Regions from separate parts of the Homo sapiens genome. Here region 2 is linked to region 1. A link means that fine-mapping ties the variant in region 1 to the plasma level of a protein whose gene starts in the linked region. Region 1 holds a variant in brackets. A gene starts in the other region. All regions are shown on their reverse strands.

Region 1 (11,371 bases):
CACCCAGGTCTTCCTTCAATGGCCAGAAGGAGGGAGCTACACCCTACGTTTTCCAAAGAGAACCCGCACTGTAGACTGTGAAGGATTCCACTAAACCTGGAGCACTTCTGTCCTATGGCATCCTCATGCCCTCCTCCCCCTCCCACCTCATCCAGTCCATCATCCCTCCCCACAGAAACTGTCAAATCTCAGCCTCTCACAGTCCTCTATCTAGAGTCTTGCAAATGTCACAGCCCCAGGCTTCTTTTTTCTTTTCTGTCCAGTTGCTGCTACTTTTCCACAGAGGGAAGAGATGGCCTCTATTTCTGCAGCTCTGTGGGTCCTCAGGGAAGTGGGGAGAATGCTGGTCCTATGAAATGGAGGGAGAGACTTCCTCCTCAGACTGGTGCCCTCCTAGGGTGTCTAAAATGAAACATTTCTCACCACTTTTGTAGAACAATTGTTTACTCACCAGGTACGTGAAAATTCACGTTCCTCCTCTGAACATACCCTGAACTCTATTACTCTGACCCCTTGTCTTGGGCAACAGGGGAGCATTCACACACAGCCTTCCTGCCCTGGGCATCTTTCATTAACTTGAGGAGAAACAGAATCCAGCCCAAAAGGCTTCTCTCTATCACTGGACAAGTCAAGATGGGAGATAGCAAGTCAGAAGACTCCACCAAGGAAAGTAGGCATATATTTTCTTGGGAGAATAGAAAGCAGGAAAGCTTGAAATATTAATAGGCCAGGACAGCAGTTGACAGAGGAGCTTGAAGGGGAGAGTTTTGATTTTAGAAGGAAAATATGATTTTTAAAAGTTCACTCTGCCAGCCAGGCATAGTGGCTCATGCCTGTAATCCCAGTGCTTTGGGAGGCCAAGGCGGGTCGATTGCTTGAGCCCAAGAGTTGGAGACCATATGGAATAAAATGGGCAACATGGTAAAACTCCGTCTCTACAGAAAATACGTAAAAAATTATCCAAGAACAGTGGCACATGCCTGTAGTCCCAGCTACTCTGGAGGCTGAGGTGGGAGGATTGCTTGCACCTGGGAGTTGAGGCTGTAGTGAGCTATGATCATGCCACTGCACTTCAGCCTGGGTGACAGTGAGACCCTGTCTCAAAAAAACAAAAAGTTTACTCTGCCATTACAAAAGTCTTGAAATTTTATAAGCTACCAAAAAATAAAAATAAGAAATAAGTCTCCGATAATTTCACCACCTCAAGACAACCAATAACCACTATTAACATTTTAGTGTTACTTCCTTTCAGATTTTCTCTGTGCATACTTTTACACAATTTTGATCATTCTTTATATAGAATTTTTTGGCCTAACCTTTTCATCTGTTAGAAATGCAAAATGCTTGTTCCCCAGTGCCATAAAGAAATAGCACTTGAACATAAATTTAATTCTCTCAGCAAGGCAATTTTTACTTTCTGCAGAAAGGGTGCCCATCACAGATGGAACAAAGACAAGAGCACACTTGAACAAAGGAGGTACAAAACATTTATATCTGACCCATCCAGACCCTACTGCTGTGTCCTGATTCCATTGGCTGGAACTGGACCTGACAGTCTAGGCAGCACCCAGTTGGCTAAAGGTTTAAAACTTTTTCTAAAGAGGTAATGGCAGAGGAGAAGAAAGGAAAAGAGGAAGTTGCTTATGAAAAGACTCAGAAAAGTAATAACATTCCCAAATAAGGAAGGGGCATAGGCTGCAAGCTGTGACATGCCTGTGCACAGGTCTAGCACAGATATCTTGGTTAAAGTACAGGGACATAGAATGTATTTAATTTTCTTACATTTAATAACTACATAGGATAGGGCTTAACAAAGAGTTATTAGCACAAAGCAAGGAAGTTTGAAGGAAGTTAGTTTTTAAAAGAAACTATTATCTCTAACACTTATGATTTATTCTTTAACAAGAAGGGAAATTTTGAAGAGGAACTTTTTGCTTTCTACATCACCCAATGTTGTAGGCATTTTCCATGTTGTAGAAAACTCTTAAAACATTTTAGGCCAGGCACGGTGGCTCACACCTGTAATCCCAGCACTTTGGGAGGCCGTGGCAGGCAGATCACGAGGTCAGGAGTTTGAGACCAGGCTGACCAACATGGTGAAACCCCATCCTACTAAAAATACAAAAATTAGCCAGGTGTGATGGCGTGCGCCTGTAATCCCAGCTACTCAGGAGGCTGAGGCAGGAGAATCACTTGAACCTGGGGGGCGGAGGTTGCAGTGAGCCAAGATCGCGCCACTGCACTCCAGCCTGGGTGACAGAGCGAGACTCTGTCTCAAAAAAAAAAAAAAAAAAAAAAATCTTAAATGCTATATTATACTCCTAACTTAAGGAGGTATCACATGTACTTTAATTTTACTGTTATAAATAGCTTGCATACACACAGGGAAGTGAGGTAAGGAGACCACACTCATTTTACTCCATTTGGATGTACAATTGATCCAGCATCATTTACTAAAAATACCAAACCTTAAGTGTTCATCTCAATGAATCTTTATAGTATGAAATATTTCTAGCACCCCAGAAAACTCCTTTGGGTTCCTCTCAGCCCACACCCCACCCCTACCAAAGTAACCACTGTCCTGACATCTGTCATGATGGAATACTTTTGCCTGGTCCTGAACTTTGTATAAATAGAATCAAATAGTAGGCATTCTTGGTTTCTGGCTTGTTTTTTCAACATAATGTCTGTGAGAAACATCCATGTTGTCACATTAGTTTCTTTTTTTATTGCTGAGAAGTATTCCATTGTGTGACTAAAGCACAATTGATTTATCCATTCTCCTGTAGATGGATGTGTGGATTGATTCCATCCGGGGGCTACTGCAAACCAAGCTGCTATGAACATTCTTGCATATATTGTTTGGTGGTTACCTGCATTCATTTCTCTTGGATACGTACCTGGTTTTGTCATAGGGTAGGCATATGTCTAGCTTTAATAGATTCTACCAGTTTTTCAATAAACTCTCCTATCATCAGTATATCAAAGTTCCAGTTGCTCTGCATCCTTGCCAATACTTTTTAAGTTTTGCCATTCTGCATATGTGTAGTAAAACATAATAATGGAGGCCAGGCACAGTGGCTCACGCCTGTAATCCTAGCACTTTGGGAGGCCAAGGCAGGTGGATCACCTGAGGTCAGGAGTTCGAGACCAGCCTGGCCAACACAGCGAAACCCCGTCTCTACTAAAAATACAAAAATCAGCCGGGTGTGGTGGCATGGGCCTGTAGTCCCAGCTACTCAGGAGACTGAGGCAGGAGAATCGTTTGAACCTGGGGGCAGAGGTTGCAGTGAACTGAGATCGCACCACTGCACTTCAGCCTGGGGGAAAGAGCAAGACTCCATCTCAAAAAATAAATAAATAAATAAAAATAATAATAATGGCTTTAATTTTGCATTTCCCCAATATCAAATGATGTAGACCACTTTTTAGATTTGTGTTGGACCACTTAGATATCCTCTTTACAGTATGTCTTCTCCTTGTAGATTTGTTGTCTTTTTCTAAAATATTCTGAATACTAGTCTTTTTTTGGATAAATGTATTGTAAACATGTTCTCCCATTCCATGGTTTGTCCTTTAATTCTTTTAATCTTGTATTTTGATGAACAGAAGTACAGAAGTTCTTAATCTTAAATAAGTCCTAATTTGTCAGTTTTTTAAATTTCATAGTTAGTGATTTCTGTGTTCTGATTAAGAAATTTTTGCCTACAAGGTTGTGACAATATTCTCCTATATGTTTTTCTAAAAGTGTATTGTTTTACCTTTCAAATCTAGGTCTATGATCCATTTGGAATTAATGTTGGTATAGGATGTGAGAGAAAAGTTCATTTTTTCCATATAGGCATGCAATCGATCCAGTATTATTTGCTAAAATGACCATCCTTTGTCCCTGAATTCCAGTGGTATCTTTATTATACATCAGGTGATTATATATGTGTTGGCCTCCTCCTGAATCCTCTATTCTTTTCCATTAGTCTATTTGTCTAATCTGGAGCCATTGTCATACTGTCTTAATAATGTGTGAAAGGAGGTTGGGTGCGGTGGCTCACGCCTGTAATCCCAGCATTTTGGGAGGCCGAGGCGGGTGGATCACGAGGTCAGGAGATCGAGATCATTCTGGCCAACATGGTGAAACCCCATCCCTACTAAAGTACAAAAAATTAGCTGGGCATGGTGGCGGGCGCCTGTAGTCCCAGCTACTCGGAGGCTGAGGCAGGGGAATCGCTTGAACCCGGAAGGCGGAAGTTGCAGTGAGCTGAGATCGCGCCACTGCACTCCAGCCTGGGCGACAGAACGAGATTCTGTCTCAAAAAATAAAAATAAAAAAATAAATAATAATAATAATAATAATAATAATAATGTGTGAAAGGAAACTATCTTAAACCCCCAGAATCACTAAGCTAAAGGGAAAAGTGAAGCAGAGAACTGCTTAGGGCAAACCTGCCTCCCATTCTATTCAATGCCACCCCTCTGCTCACTGAGATAAATGCATATCCTTTTGCCTCTTTTGGAGAGGCTCATCAGAACCTCAAAAGAATGTAACCATTTGTCTCTTATCTACCTATGACCTGGAAGCCCCCTCCTGGCTTTGAGACTTGTCCCGCCTCTGCGGACGGAACCAGTGTTCATCTTACGTATGTTGATTGATGTCTCAGGTCTCCCTAAAATGTATAAAACCAAACTGTGCTCTGACCGCCTTGGACATATATCAGGACCTCCTGAGGTTGTGTTGGGTGTGCGTCCTCAACCTTGGCAAAATAAGCTTTCTAAATTAACCGAAACCTGTCTCAAATTTTGGGGGTTCACAAATGGGAACTTTTTTTGAGACAGGGTCTCACTGTCCCCCAGGCAGGAGTGCAGGGACACAATCTGCAGCCTCAACAATGATCTCCAACAATCCTCCCACCTCAGCCTCACAGGTAACTGAGACTACAGGTATGCGCAACCACACACAGCCAACTTGTTGTTGTTGTAGTTGTAGAGATGTGGTTTTGCCATGTTGACCAGGCTGGACTTGAACTCTTGGGCTCAAGTGATCCACCCACCTCAGCTTCCTAAAGTGCTGGCATTACAGGCATGAGCCTCCACACCTGGCCAATAATGGGAACTTTATACTAAATCTTGCTATCTGGTATTATAAGTGTTCCAACTTTATTTTCTTTCAGAGTTTGTCTTGACTATTCTAGGTCTTTTCCATTTTATGTAAATTTTAAAATCAACTTTCCAATTCTCACAAAATGTCCTGATGGGATTTTTATTGGGATTACATTGAATCTCCAGATCACTTTGGGGAGAGTTGACATCTTGACTCTGTTGAGTCTTTCGAGTAATGCACGTAGCATCTCTCTTCATTTATTTAGGCTGTCTTTAATTTTAATGCCTTGTTCATATTGATACAGACCTCTGGCACCTCTTTCATTAGATTTATTCTTAAGCATTTGATGTTTATGTTATTGTAAATGATATTTTTTAATTGATTTAAATAGTATAGGAATAAATACCTCAGTAGCCATGAAATGAGAACCCTGGATTTTCACAAGAGTATACATGACCTTCAAACAGAATGGAGAGTGGACTGTTGAATTCAGAACAGCACATGTTGTTCAGAATTGCAGTTTATCTTGATAAGAAAATTAAA[CA/A]AAGACATTCACATGATTACACCTATTTCTAGAATTTCTCCTTTTTTTCACAGTCACCAGGACCAGGGGCTACAGGGTCCCACGGTGCCTGGAACATAGGCATTGCTTCCCAGTTGCACTGCCTTACGGTCAGCAATTCTCTTCTCCAAAACTGAGCCACTGGCAGACACACATATTGATATTTTGTACCATACACATTGATATTTTAAGCTTTTTAAGAGCTTCTTAAAAGTAGGATCATCCCTGACAGTTTGTAAATGAGGAACTTCCAAGATCCAGGCTGCTAAATCAAATATTATCCTCAGACCAGCTTCCTGTCAGCAAAGACAGCCAACCAAGGTGGGAAACCCACACAGCCTGTCAAAACTTACAAAGAAATGCTGCCTTTCCCAGCATGAAACTGGTCAGATGTCAAAGGCATGAGGATATTAGTACGAGTGTAAAAACTGACTCTATATTCAAAAGAATTCATATCAACCTTCCTTAATTTCTTCAACCTACCACGTTTGTGGGATGGGTCCCAGGAAACAAGGTAGGACCAAGTCGGTGTTTTTTCATTCACCCTTATCTCCATGGCCCAGCAATGCCTGGCATACAACAGAGGCTCAGTCCGGTTGGTTGAATTGAATGGGGGATAAACATAGCCTCTGCCTTCAAAGAGTTCAGAATAGGGGCAGAAATAAAAACTGTAACACGAGTAAGTAATGCCTGTATTGTCATCTTCTGTCTGCAGTGGAGAAGATCCAGCCCTCAGAAGCATAAAAGCTGTCCGCAGAACCAGCCCTGCAGGTACTTTAGGAGAAAAGCCAGTCAACTCCTAGTAATAACAGGTAACATTGGGAGGGTTCTGTGTGCCAGGCACTGTGCTATGTGCTTTCTGTGTATTTACTCATTTAATTCTTCAACAGCCCATAAGCATTGGGTCTTTTTATTATCTAATAATCCCGTTTTTTATAAATGGGGCACAGAGAGGATAAGGAACTTGTTCAAGGTAACACAGCTAGCAAAGAGAGGAGCCAGGATTCAAACCCAGGCCAAGCCCTTGACCACCCTGGGGTGCTACCTCTCCCACATGACAAACTACACAGAATTCTCAAGACTCCCTCACATGTGCTGGGCACAGTGGCTCATGCCTATAATCCCAGCACTTGGGAGGACATGCTGGAGGATTGCTTGAAGCCAAGAGTTCAAGGTGAGCCTGGGCAACATAGGGAGATCCATCTCTACAAAAATAAAAAAATAAGAAGTTAGCCAGGCATAGTGGTATGCACCTATAGTTCCAGCTACTCAGGGGACTGAGTGGGGAGGATCACTTGAGCCTGGGAGAGGCTGCAGTGAGCTCTGATTGCGCCACTGTACTCCAGCCTGGGCAACAGATCAAGACCCTGTCTCAAAAATAAAATAAAAAAGATTCCCTCACATAATCAGCATCAAGGGCTCACCATTAGAGTCACTTTTAAGGGTCATCTGGAGACAGATCTTTCACTGGGTTAAGGCATTTCTTACCTGGAAGGGATAACAAACTTGCTAGCTAACCACATTAGCCAGGCTAAGGGTGTCAATTGTACATGGCTATGGAGGCCCATTAAGAACCTTGTGTATCAGATTTAAACCATGACTGAGGCAGTGATGCCCAGCAAAGAGGATAAGGAGGACCTTAAAGCACTGGCACCCAAGGCTGGAGAAGCCTGAGGCTGCAAAGAATTGAAGGTTTTCTCCAAGCATGACCCCTGTGTTGGCCTTGGGGGCCCTGGAGCAGTCTGAAACCATGTGGACCATGGCTGGGAAGCACGTTAGGAAACAGATCAAGTAAACTACCTGACAAAGCATTTGGGCAAGAGTGCCCTGGGTGCCAGCCAGATGCAGAGAGGAGTTGAACCATGCACCCTGGTCATAGGACAGATCTTCAGAAGGAATGGAATTTAAATGGAGCTCTGCTTTTCAGCAGTCAGTGCAAGAAATCAGGGACTTGCATAAACTTGCCAAGCCGCAAAGCAAATCCCCTTCCACTGAAGAGGTGCTGGGCTTGTCGTAGGATGTGACCCACTGGATGCTGGCAGGCGGTTCTTCTGAGAGACTGAGAGATGCTGGAAAACTCAGCATCTCAGTGAATGACTGGAAGAACAAGGGAGTAAAAGAACATGAAGGTGGGCCACCCTATTCACACACACACACCTATGTGTGTATAGATATTTGTATATATGTGTTTTTATTTTTAAATGATTCTGTCAGGGTCTCAGATAGAGGTGAAATTCTAACCTACTCAGAGTGATTTCTTTTAGGTTCCCAGACCTGGGATCCACATTTTTTGCTCTACTGAGGTAGGAAGGTGTCACTAGATCCATTAAGAACTGCAAATTCAACATCTGTGAGAATGGTTGAAGCTCAAAAGACTGGCCAGCTTCTCAAATACCCAGTGACTGAAATACGTAACTGGCCAGCTTCTCAAATAGCCAAGGCAGTGCCAAGGTTACTACTCAGGAGAATGTCTTCCATGTGCCTGGGGCAGACAGGAAGTGTTCTGACCCTCTGCCCACAGCTTTGTTCCTGTACCCACCAACTCAAGTGATTAATGGGGTGGCAGGTGGTGCAGCAGCCAAGTGACCTTCACACACTGTAACTCCTTTTGTTTCCTATGGGACACTTTCCAGATGGGGTTTTCAGCACTCAGGAAACCTCTTTGTGGCTGGCAGTAATGCAAGAAGTGCAGTGTTTATCCATTTCCTCTCCTGAAGCCCTGCCCTTTGGAGCCTCGTCCTTGTATTGCTGCCCAGGTATTTCACAAATTCCAGATCATTCCCACACTGTTCCTGCACACACAGCGCTATGCCCTGTCCCCTGCTGTCCTCTTGCATGTGACAAGCCACAGTGACTTTATTTCCTATGTGTCTAACCACAAGGCTCTTACAGAAATTTTCCCTGGCTGCCAAGACTCATTCAACATCATAGGTGGCCCAGACTAGAGGGTAGGTAACATTATCATCTCAGAATGTTCTTATGGTGTGTTGGGACCGGAGGTCTGTACCTGGAGGAAAAAGAGAAATCCTGAAACATGTTTTAGCCAAGTAGTAAGCACATAACATCTCTTCCAAGCAAATATAAAACTATAGTAGACCTCAATCTGTCTTCTTTATTAGCTAGGATTAAATTTGACTAAGTGACTTAACAGGGATTAAAGCACACAAGGTCCCAGCCTGGGCAACAGAGTGAAACCCCATGCCTACAAAAAATACAAAAATTAGCCAGGTGTGGTGGCACACACCTGTAGTCCCAGATGCTCTGGAGGCTGAGGTGGGAGGATCACTTGAGCCCAGGAGATTGAGGCTGCAGTGAGCCATGATCATGCCAGTGTACTCCAGCCTGGGTGACAGAGCAAGTGAGACCTCGTCTAAAAAATTTTTTTTTAATTTTTAATTACACACACACACACACATACACAAGGTTCTGTTTTCTCAAGTAAAAGAGGTAGGGAAGTAGGCAGACAGAGCTGGTATTAGTGTCAGCATTAAGCTGTTTCCAGCTTTTGCCTCCATCATCCCTGCAGAATGACCCTGATCCTTAGGTCTAAAATGGATGCCAGAGCTCCAGCCATCATACCCATATTCCAGGCAGCAGCAGACTTTCCAGAAACTTCACACAATACTTTCATATATATGTCATTGAATAGAACTTGGTCACTGGACCACATCCAACTATACTGGAAATCAGGAAATGTCTTTATGCTGGGAATCCAGAACATGGAACCATTGATATGGTTTGGCTGTGTCCCCACCAAAATCTTATCTTGAATTGTAGTTCCCATAATCCCCACATGTCATGGAAGGGACCTGGTGGAAGGTAATTGAATCAGGGGGCAGTTATCCTCATGCTGTTCTCATGATAGTGAGTTCTCATGAGATCTGATGGTTTTATAAGGGGCTTTCCCCCGACCTTCACTCTGCACTTCTCAGTCTGCCGCCATGTGAAGAAGAACATGTTTGCTTCCCCCTTCCACCATGATTGTAAGTTTCCTGAGAACTCCCCAGCCATGCTGAACTGTGAGTCAATTAAACCTCTTTCCTTTATAAATTACCCAGTCTCAGGTATGTCTTTATTAGCAGCATGAGAATAGACTAAAACAGCCATCTACAAGATAACTGGACTGATCTCATGAGAGGTTACTGTTCTAGATTAAAAGAAACTAGCTGGGTGCGGTGGCTCAATGCCTGTAATCCCAGCACTTTGGCAGGCCAAGGTGGGCGGATCACCTGAGGTCAGGAGTTTGAGACCAGCTGGCCAGCATGGTGAAACCCTGTCTCTACTAAAAATACAAAAAAAATTAGCTGGGTGTGGTGGCAGCCGCCTGTAATCCCAGCTACTCGGGAAGCTGAGGCAGGAGAATCGCTTGAACCCAGGAGGTGGAGGTTGCAGTGAGCAGAGATTGCGCATTGCACTCCAGCCTGGGCAACAGAGTGAGACTCCCTCTCAAAAAAAAAAAAAAAAAATAGGCCGGGCACAGTGGCTCATGCCTGTAATCCCAGCACTCTGGGAGGCCAAGGCTGGTGGATCATGAGGTCAGGAGATCAAGACCATCCTGGCTAACACAGTGAAACCCCATCTCTACTAAAAAATACAAAAAATTAGCCAGGCGTAGTGGCAGGCGCCTGTAGTCCCAGCTACTCGGGAGGCTGAGGCAGAAGAGTGGCGTGAACGCAGGAGGCGGAGCTTGCAGTGAGCCGAGATCGCTCCACTGCACTCCAGCCTGGGCAACAGAGCGAGACTCCGTCTCAAAAAATAAAAATAAATAAAATAAAATAAAAGAAATAAAAGAAACTAAAGAGGCATATGGATGAGCGTTGATTGGATATGGAAGATATTTTGGATACAACAGGAGAAATTTGAACACGAACTCAGTGTTAGATGATATTAGCAAATCATGGTTAATTCTCTTATGTGTGATTATAGACTTATGGTTACATAGGAGCATGTACTTAGATAATGCAGGTTACAAAGTACTTAGGAGTGAATCAAAATACACAATAAAAATAGGTTAAAAGATTGGCAGAGCCAACAGGGAAAAGATAGTAAGAATTACTGAGTGTAGGTGGAAGGAGTATGGATATCTATTATACTATTCTTTCTGATTTTCTGTATATCTAAATTTTCTTTTTTTTGAGACAGAGTCTTGCTCTGTCACCCAGGCTGGAGTGCAGTGGCACAATCCTGGCTCAGTGTAGCCTCTGCCTCCCAGGTTCAAGCAATTCTCCTGCCTCAGACTCCTGAGTAGCTGGGACTACAGACATACACCACCATGCTTGGCTGTTATTTGTTTTTTTAGTAGAGACAGGGTTCCCCATGTTGCCTAGACTGGTCTAGAACTCCTGGCCTCAAGTGATCAGCCCATCTTGGCCTCCCTAAGTGCTGAGATTACAGGCATGAGCCACCATGCCCAGCCTAAAATTCCTTATAATACAAATTACAGGAGGGTAATTATCTATTTGGGCTGACTGTTCCTCAGCTTTCTCATGTGAGGCCGATGGCCTCCTGGTGAAAATGAGTGAGGTTCCTGGCAGTATTCTGGAACCAGTCAACACAAAGGGTCTGAGGAGTGGGTTGAAGCCCATGGTCTCAGCCAAGATGGATCTCAGAGCTTGTGGATGTGGGGAGAGAAAGCTGCCCTCCAGCCGCAGCTTCTCCAATAGTCTTCTGTCATCACCCAGCACTGCTGCGAGGATCCACAAATCCCATCACTT
Region 2 (8,000 bases), not on the chromosome of region 1:
AGGAGTTTGTTTTTCTCCAGACACCTTGTCCACCACCTCCAGACAGTGTTTAGTTACCAGAGACAAAGTTCCCACCAGGGGCTCATGGACCAGTCAGGGGACAGATGGGACAGACGTGCAGTAAAGCGAAGGCTCTCAAAATAATGCTGCCAGAGCACATGGGGGTACGGAAAGGGGTGTGGCTCTACCCTGTGTGGTAGGAGTGGAAGTGCCCAGAGAGTCAGGGAAACCTCACTAAGAGCTGGGCTTGAGTGGGCACCTGGGGCTGGTGATTGGAGAGTACCTAGAAGGGATGTGCATTAGTGGGACTCAGCCATGCCTGTGTGACTCACACCATTCCACCTTTGCAATGGAGATGCTGTTGAAAAATGTCCATGGGCCAGGCTTTCTGAAAACATATTCTAAAGATACTTGAAATTTGTGCAATCTTTGGGGTTGTTTAATTCGTTGTTTTTTTGTTGTTGTTGTTGTAATTGGCTTTTGTTGTTTTTATTTTTTGAAATGGAGTCTCACTCTGTCACCCAGGCTGGAGTGCAGTGGCGCGATCTCGGCTTACTGCAACTTCGGCCTCCTGGACTCAAGCAATTCTCTTGCCTCAGCCTCCCAAGTAGCTGGGACTACAGGTGCACACCACTACGCCTGGTTAATTTTTGTATTTTGTTTAGTAGAGATGGGGTTTTGCTCTGTTGGCCAGGCTGGTCTCAAACTCCTGACCTCAGGTGATCCACCCACCTCAGCCCCCCAAAGTGCTGGGATTACAGGCATAAGCCACCACGCCTGACCTGGGGTTGTTTAATTTGCAAAAGATTTGGAACTTGTCTAGTGCTGAGACCCCCTCAGGGCGTAGTGAGGTGATGTGGTGGCAGCCCCAGAGGTGATATCACTTGCTGCAGGTATACTTTTTTCTCCTTTGTATCTCTTAGACAATAGCTCCCACTGCTGTCAGGAGCAACTAAATCTTCTGTGTTACTGCTTCTAACACAGGGTTAGAAACAAGAGATAAAGTCTGTGTGAGGGTGATGTCAGCAAGCTCTTACTCAAGACCTGAGGGGCACTCCCTTTATTTAAGTAAACAAGATAAGCTTTTAGCACAGAGGCATTATGGCAATCCTGTCTTTATTTGTTCCTCTGACTCGTTCAGAGGAGGATCTGACTTGGCCTGTCAAATCTGTTTTGACTGCCAAATCCTTTGTCTTTCTCTTGCTTACTTCCTGGTTATTAACTGCACTCTGGTTAGATGAGCTTTGATGATTCCATGTTTTGCCAGGACAGTGACCATAGGTGTTTATAATGCTGACTCAGACAGGTAATACATGGTCCCAACTTCTAATCACCCCAGAAAGAACTGCCGGCCAGGCGCTGTGGCTTACGCCTATAATCCCAACACTGGGAGACCAAGGCAGGAAGATCACTTGAGCCCAGGAGCTCAAGACCAGTGTGGGCAACATAGCAAGACCTCATCTCTGTGAAAAATTAAATAAATAGGCTGGGTGCGGTGGCTCAGGTCAGTAATCCCAGCACTTTGGGAGGCCGAGGTGGGCGGATCATCTGAGGTCGGGAGTTCGAGACCAGCCTGGCCAACATGGAGAAACCCTGTCTCTACAAAAAATACAAAAAAATTAGCCGGCGTGGTGGCGCATGCCTGTAATCCCAGATACTTAGGAGGCTGAGGCAGGAGATTCGTTTGAATTCAGGAGGCAGAGGTTGTGGTGAGCCAAGATCGCACCATTGCACTCCAGCCTGGGCAAAAAGAGCGAAACTCCGTCTCAAAAAAAAAAAAAAGAAAAGAAAAATAATTAGCCTGGTGTGATGGCACACGCCTGTGGTCCCATCTACTTGAGAGGCTGAAGTAGGAGGATCACTTGAGTCTGCAGTGAGCCGTGATCACGCCACTACTGCACTCCAACCTGGGGGATAGAGTGAGTCCTTATCTCAAAAAACAGAAAACAAAAAAAAAACAAAAAAAAACTGCCTTTTGTTAAGCTTATTTTGTGTCTGTGACCATTTCCTATTAGATAGATATTTGAGGCCCAGAATATCTGCTGCCAGTTGAGGCCAGGTAAGAGTTACTGGCTGCTCTTGTTAAGCAAATATTTGAACTCAGTAGGCCTGAAGATGGGGTAACTGTTCGGATACTCTGCTTGAAATGCTGTCAGTGTGGTTAATGTTGATAATGGCCTCTGTTGGATGCCTGACACGCTGTATAAGGCACTTCGTGTAACTTAGTTTCATCCTCCCAACATTTTATATATCAGGAGACTGAGCCTTTCGTCACTGTCACTAATAAGTGGCAGTGGCTAGATTCGAACCAAGTTGGTTAAGCCTCTAAGCCCCACATCAAGCGCTCAGCCTTGTTCGCTCTGGAGTACCAGGATGCTTCCAGACTCCCTGGCCGTGCAGAGCAGCTTCCTAGCTGTTTTCCCAGTGCCAGTCCCATTCCTTGGGTCTTCCCCTTATAATACTGTTGAAATAGTAAGTTCAAAGTTTGTTTTAGTCACAACTAAGAAAGACTTTTGAATTGCACATTTTGGAGCAGGAAAGTCACATTGTTTCTGACTCAAAATGCCTGTTGCCTTTTCCAGGTCCCCATCTCAGCACCTGCCTCAGGCTGCAGTGCCACTAGTTTACACACGGGAAAACAGTTTCTAGAAACGATTTCTTTTTATTTTTATTTTGAGACGGCGGGGTCTCACTCTGTCACCCAGGCTGGAGTGCAGTGGCACAATATTGGTTCACTGCCACCTGTTCCTCTCAGGCTCAAGAGACCCTCCCACCTCAGCCTTTTGAAGTAGCTGGGACCACAGGTGTGTGCCACCAAACCCAGTTAATTTTTTGTGTTTTTGGTAAAGATGGGGTTTTACCATGTTGCCCAGACAGGTCTCAAACTCCTGAGCTCAGGCAATTCTCCTGCCTTGGCCTCCCAAAGTGCTGGAATTACAGGTATGAGTTACCATGCTCAGCCTCTAGAAATGATTTCTAATGTATGTAGCTGCAAATAGAACTGGGCCCAGTTTCTGAATGGCACTTTGAGTAACTTAGCTTCATCCTCCCAGCATTTTACATATCAGGAGACTGTGTATCAATAGCAACACACTTTTAAAAGTCAGGAACAAAGAAAGTAAGCAGCTGGTAGAAGGCTCCTTGCCCAACTACACTTCAAGTGTCCTCCTCTTATCACTTCTTGGCCTTTTGGCTAAGATCAAGAAGAAGAAGACCAGGCATAGGGGCTCACACCTGTAATCTTAGCATCTTGGGAGGCCAAGGCAGGAGGATCGCTTGAGCCCAGGAGTTCAAGACCAGCTGGAGCAACATAGCAAGACCTCATCTCTATTTTAAAAAAGAAAGCCAAAAGAAGAAGGAACAAAGGGGGAAAATGTTTTCTTCTCAGATAAAAATAAGGTTAAAGAACAAAACAAAAACCAACTTGAATAAATAAGCATTCAGGAAAACGTATCTGAGGCCAGATAGAGTGGCAGAGTAAAGACATGCATGTTTTATCCCGGTATTCAGAAGTTATATTTGGAAACTTCTTATACCCTGTTCCCACATTATCTGATAAAAAGCCAAAAATAGTTTTCGTCATTCCCTTACCAGAGGAAGGAGAAAATATCTCTGATATCTTTTATGGATTGAAATTAAAGATCTGAAGGTAAATCTTCCTGATGTTTTGCTATTTAGTATAACAAACATTGTAGAAGACGTTTAAAAACTATCACTAGGTTGTGATTAAATCCAGATTACTGTTTGAAGAGAAACAATATATTTTAAAGATAAATCATTCAAAAGTTTGTTTTGCTTTTTTTTTTTCCTGGGAACTTCATATTGTGCTTTCTTGCTAATTGCCAGAGCTGGGTTGGCCTTTTCAGTCACGCATCAGAGCATAACACTTGATAAACCGTCATCCCTCCTGGTGTATGGTCTCCAGGCCCAACAGAGCAGGCAGAATGGGAGAGAAGTAACTGCCTAAAGTTTGGAAAACTTTTTATTTTGAAGTAAGTTCAAACTTCCAAAAATGTTGAAAGAATAGTGTAGTAGAACAACTCCTGTATACCCGTACCGAGATTTACCAGGTTTAAAATTTTGGAACCTTTGCCCTGTCATTATCTGTGTGTGTGTGTACGTACGTGTGTGTTCTCACAGGCATGCACATACACATTTTTTCTTCTAGACCATTTGAGAGTAGGTCTCCTATATCTTGTTCCTCTAACATTTTTTCTTTTTTCTTCTTTTTTTTTTTTTTTTTGACGGAGTCTAACTCTGTTGTCCAGGCTGGAGTGCAGTGGCACGATCTCCGCTCACTGCAACCTCTGCCTCCCGGGTTTAAGCGATTCTCCTGCCTCAGCCTCCTGAGTAGCTGGGATTACAGGCGCGTGCCACCACGCCCAGCTAATTTTTGTATTTTTAGTAGAGACTTGGCTTCACCATGTTGGTCAGGCTGGTCTTGAACTCCTGACCTCGTGATCCACCCGCCTCGGCCTCCCAAAGTGTTGGGATTACAGGCGTGAGCCACTGCACCCGGCCCCTCTAACCTTTAATACTAATACTTCAGGGAAAATACCCAAGAGCAAGGATATTCTCATACATAATCACAGGACAGTTATCCAATTCGATTAATTTAATATAAGTACAATATTTTCATCTATTCCACAGCTCCTATTCTAAGTTTGTCAACTCTCCCAACAATGGAACTGACACAATTTTATAATAGGCACACTGAAAAATGAAACCATTTCCCACTTCTAAAACAGTGTAGAAAGCTTCTGAATTCTTAGTTTGCTAGAAAAATGAACCAGTTGCCTATCCGTAAACACCAAAAATAATTTATAATCAGCAGAAACATTAGAAACCCAACTTACCTCTGTGTTTCTGAGAAGTGGCGCTTCAGAGATGAAAGCAGCCAAGGTCATCAGTGGGATTTTGATGTGAACTTTGGTGCTGGGCTGTTGCTGCATATTTTCCAAAGTAAATAAGTCCCAATCCAAACACCAGGCAACCAGCTTGGTCAGCACAAACCCCCTCAGCTGTGCCTTTGATAACTGTAGAGTGGCTTGCAGCTCCTCATCTCCAGTTCTTAGAGCTGACACTTTGAGTATATGACGGTTACTGTGTTAGCATGCACACATAGCCTTGGTGCAGGAGCAGCCCCTCTTGAGGTCACCACATAAACAAGGCGCTCTTCAGGCCTCTGGGGACCAGGCTGCATTGAGGGTAGCTGAAAGTAGAGACCATGCATCTGCCTCCAACTGTGTCCTCTCTTCTGGGATGATCACAGCATCTGCCCTCCACCTGCTCTCCAGGACTGATGTGGCTGGCTCAGCTACTAGGCGGGTGTCCCTGTCCTTCCAAGAGCTCGTTCCTCAGTGAAAGGTGGAGGAGAGAGGACAAAATTAGTGGCTTACAGAATAAGGGGATTGTGGCATGGACCTTTCTTCAGTCAAGGGTTGCTGTGTTTGTTGCCAGTAGGTGCAGCCCAGCACTCCTGTCTGTTGTGGGACAGATAGGACTATTACTGAGCAGTGCCTCCCAAATTCAGGGCCACTTAGGCATTCGTGGGGATCTCTGAGGCTGTGATACATTTTGTGTTTATGGGTGTTTGTTTGTTTGTTTGTTTGTTTTGAGACAGAGTTTCGCGCTGCTGCCCATGCTGGAGTGCAGTGGTGCGATCTCAGCTCACTGCAACCTCTGTCTCCCAAGTTCAAGCGTTCTCCTGCCTCAGCCTCCTGAGTGGCTGAGATTACAGGCGCACACCACCATGTCCAACTAATTTTTTGTATTTTTAGTAGAGACGGGGTTTCACTATGTTGGCCAGGCTGGTGTTGAACTCCTGGAGTGAAGTGATCCTCCCGTCTCGGCCTCCCAAAGTGCTGGGATTACATGCGTGAGCCACCACGCCTGGCCCTATGTGTTTTTTGAGACAGGGTCTCACTCTGTTACCCAGGCTGGAGTGCAGTGGCGTGATCTTGGCTCACTGCAGCCTCAACCTCCCGAGCTGAAGCAATCCTCCTCACCTCAGCCCTGCAAGTAGCTGGGAATACAGGTGCACACCACCATGTCTAGCTAACTTTTGACTTTTTTGTAGAGACAGGGTCTCACTATGTTGCCTAGGCTGGTCTTGAACTCTTGGGCTCAAGTGATCCTCCTGCTTCAGCCTTGCAAAGTGCTGGGATTACAGGCATGAGTCACTGTGCCCGGCCTTATGATAATTTGTTTTTTAATTTGTGTTTTAAATTTTATGATCTAAAAAGTTTTAAGAATATTCTGGATTGTCTGGAAGATCAGCTTATCACAGAGACTGCTCCTCAAGAGCATGTTTGGGAGTGTCGGCACCCAGAGTCTATCTGAAGAGAGAATGTGACTCCTAGGAGAATCTGCGGGTGTGCAAGGGGCCCATGGGGGTGTCTGTGCATTGCTCCGTTTGAGAAATTCCAGAGTGTAAAGGTCCATTGTGTTCAGGACACAGACCGGTGGTTGTGTCTGAGTCTGATTTTGCACTCTAGCTTTTGTCAGAGCTGTCTTCTTAGAGCCTTCATCTGTCACATACAATACTGAGTCTTCAGCGTGGCACCACAGGCAGAGGCTGCTGTCTGTGCCCACACTCCTCGTGGGCCCACCTCCCTCATTCTCTGTCTTGTTCTCACACATGCAAAGCCCGGCCCCAGCACAGCCCTGGCACTTGCTATTCTTTCTGCCCAGGACACCATCCCTGCAGACCAGCAGGTGGCCGCTGCTCTCACTGTTCGCTCTTGGTTTCACCGAGGCGTCACCAGCCACCCTGGCTGAAATTGCCCCTTGGCCTCCAGCTCTCAGTATTCTGCTCTCTGAAATGAGGGTGACAGTTACACCTACTGCATGAGGTTGTTGTGAAAATTAAATGAGATACATTAATTTATCTCATTAATTAAATGAGAAAATTAAATGAGGTTAATGAATGTGTGGAAAGCACATAGAGTGGTGCCTGGCATTCAGAAAATGTTAGTCCTCATCATTTCATGGTATTACATATTTATTCACAGAAATGGTCTGGGAGGGGACACAGCATTCATTTTTCATTCTATGTACTTCTTTGTTTGACCTTTTTCTATGTGTATGTATTACTTTTGTTATTTTTAAAGCCAGTACCGGCCAGGTGTGGTGGCTCACACCTGTAATCCCAGCACTTTGAGAGGCCAAGGCGGGTGGATCACTTGAGGTCAGGAGTTCAAGACCAGCCTGACCAACATGGTAAAACCCCGTCCCTACTAAAAATACAAAAATTAGCTGGGTGTGGTGGCACACATCTGTAGTCCCAGCTACTCGGGAGGCTGAGGCAGGACAATCGCTTGAACCTGGGAGGTGAAGGTTGCAGTGAGCCGAGTTCATGCCACTGTACTCCAGCCTGGGTGACAGAGTGAGACTCTGTCTAAATAAATAAATAAATAAATAAATAAATAAATAAAGCCAACATATTTCCTGTCTATTTGGATTTCTGATCATGTAACCCACTATTGGAAAAATTTGATTTCAGTCCCTCTTGACATTGACATTTTTCAGTCATTTTCCCATTTAGTGGTAACAGCTTGTGTATGGCTTTTTTTTTTTTGAGACAGAGTCTCGCTCTGTCGCCCAGGCTGGAGTGCAGTGGCGCAATCTCAGCTCACTGCAAGCTCCGCCTCCTGGGTTCACGCCATTCTCCTGCCTCAGCCTCCCTAGTAGCTGGGACTACAGGTGCCCACCACCACGTCTGGCTAATGTTTTGTATTTTTAGTAGAGACGGGTTTCACCATGCTGGCCAGGCTGGTCTTGAACTCCTAACCTCATGATCCGCCCGCATCGGCCTCCCAAAGTGCTGGGATTACAGGCGTGAGCCACCACAGCTTGTGTATGGCTTTAACCCCACTGTAGAGCAGTACCTCCTGTCACACATACTCCATTGTTCTTTTGCAGTTTCAAGGTTTGTCTTATGGCTAGATATTTTTTCCAACTTGGAAAAAAATTTTTTTAGTTAGAAAAAAGCGGGGTCT

Alleles and levels. Alleles are on the strand shown, and positions count from the first base shown. The strength of an association depends on the size of the effect and on how common the allele is.
In carriers of allele CA in region 1, the plasma level of the protein whose gene starts at base 4,889 in region 2 tends to be higher than with A alone (moderate association).

Evidence for each region. PIP is the chance, under the fine-mapping model, that this variant and not a neighbour inherited with it causes the effect. Protein levels are from antibody-based Olink assays in UK Biobank. Linkage for the fine-mapping came from a reference panel and not from the study's own genotypes, which makes the PIPs less certain.
Region 2: SERPIND1 starts here. The variant in region 1 is fine-mapped to the plasma level of the SERPIND1 protein (UK Biobank, PIP above 0.99).

What each region holds. Positions count from the first base shown.
Region 1 is chr16:72,039,359-72,050,729 of GRCh38, reverse strand. No RefSeq gene overlaps it. Among named protein-coding and RNA genes, the nearest start is that of HP, 9.5 kb to the left of the region's middle. The variant CA/A (reference allele first, on the strand shown) is at 5,639.
Region 2 is chr22:20,771,002-20,779,001 of GRCh38, reverse strand. It overlaps SERPIND1 (serpin family D member 1), which reads right to left and starts at 4,889. Exons shown (of 5, transcript NM_000185.4): 1 at 4,857-4,889. The region is part of intron 19 of PI4KA (phosphatidylinositol 4-kinase alpha); the gene reads left to right. RefSeq lists an enhancer at 907-1,201.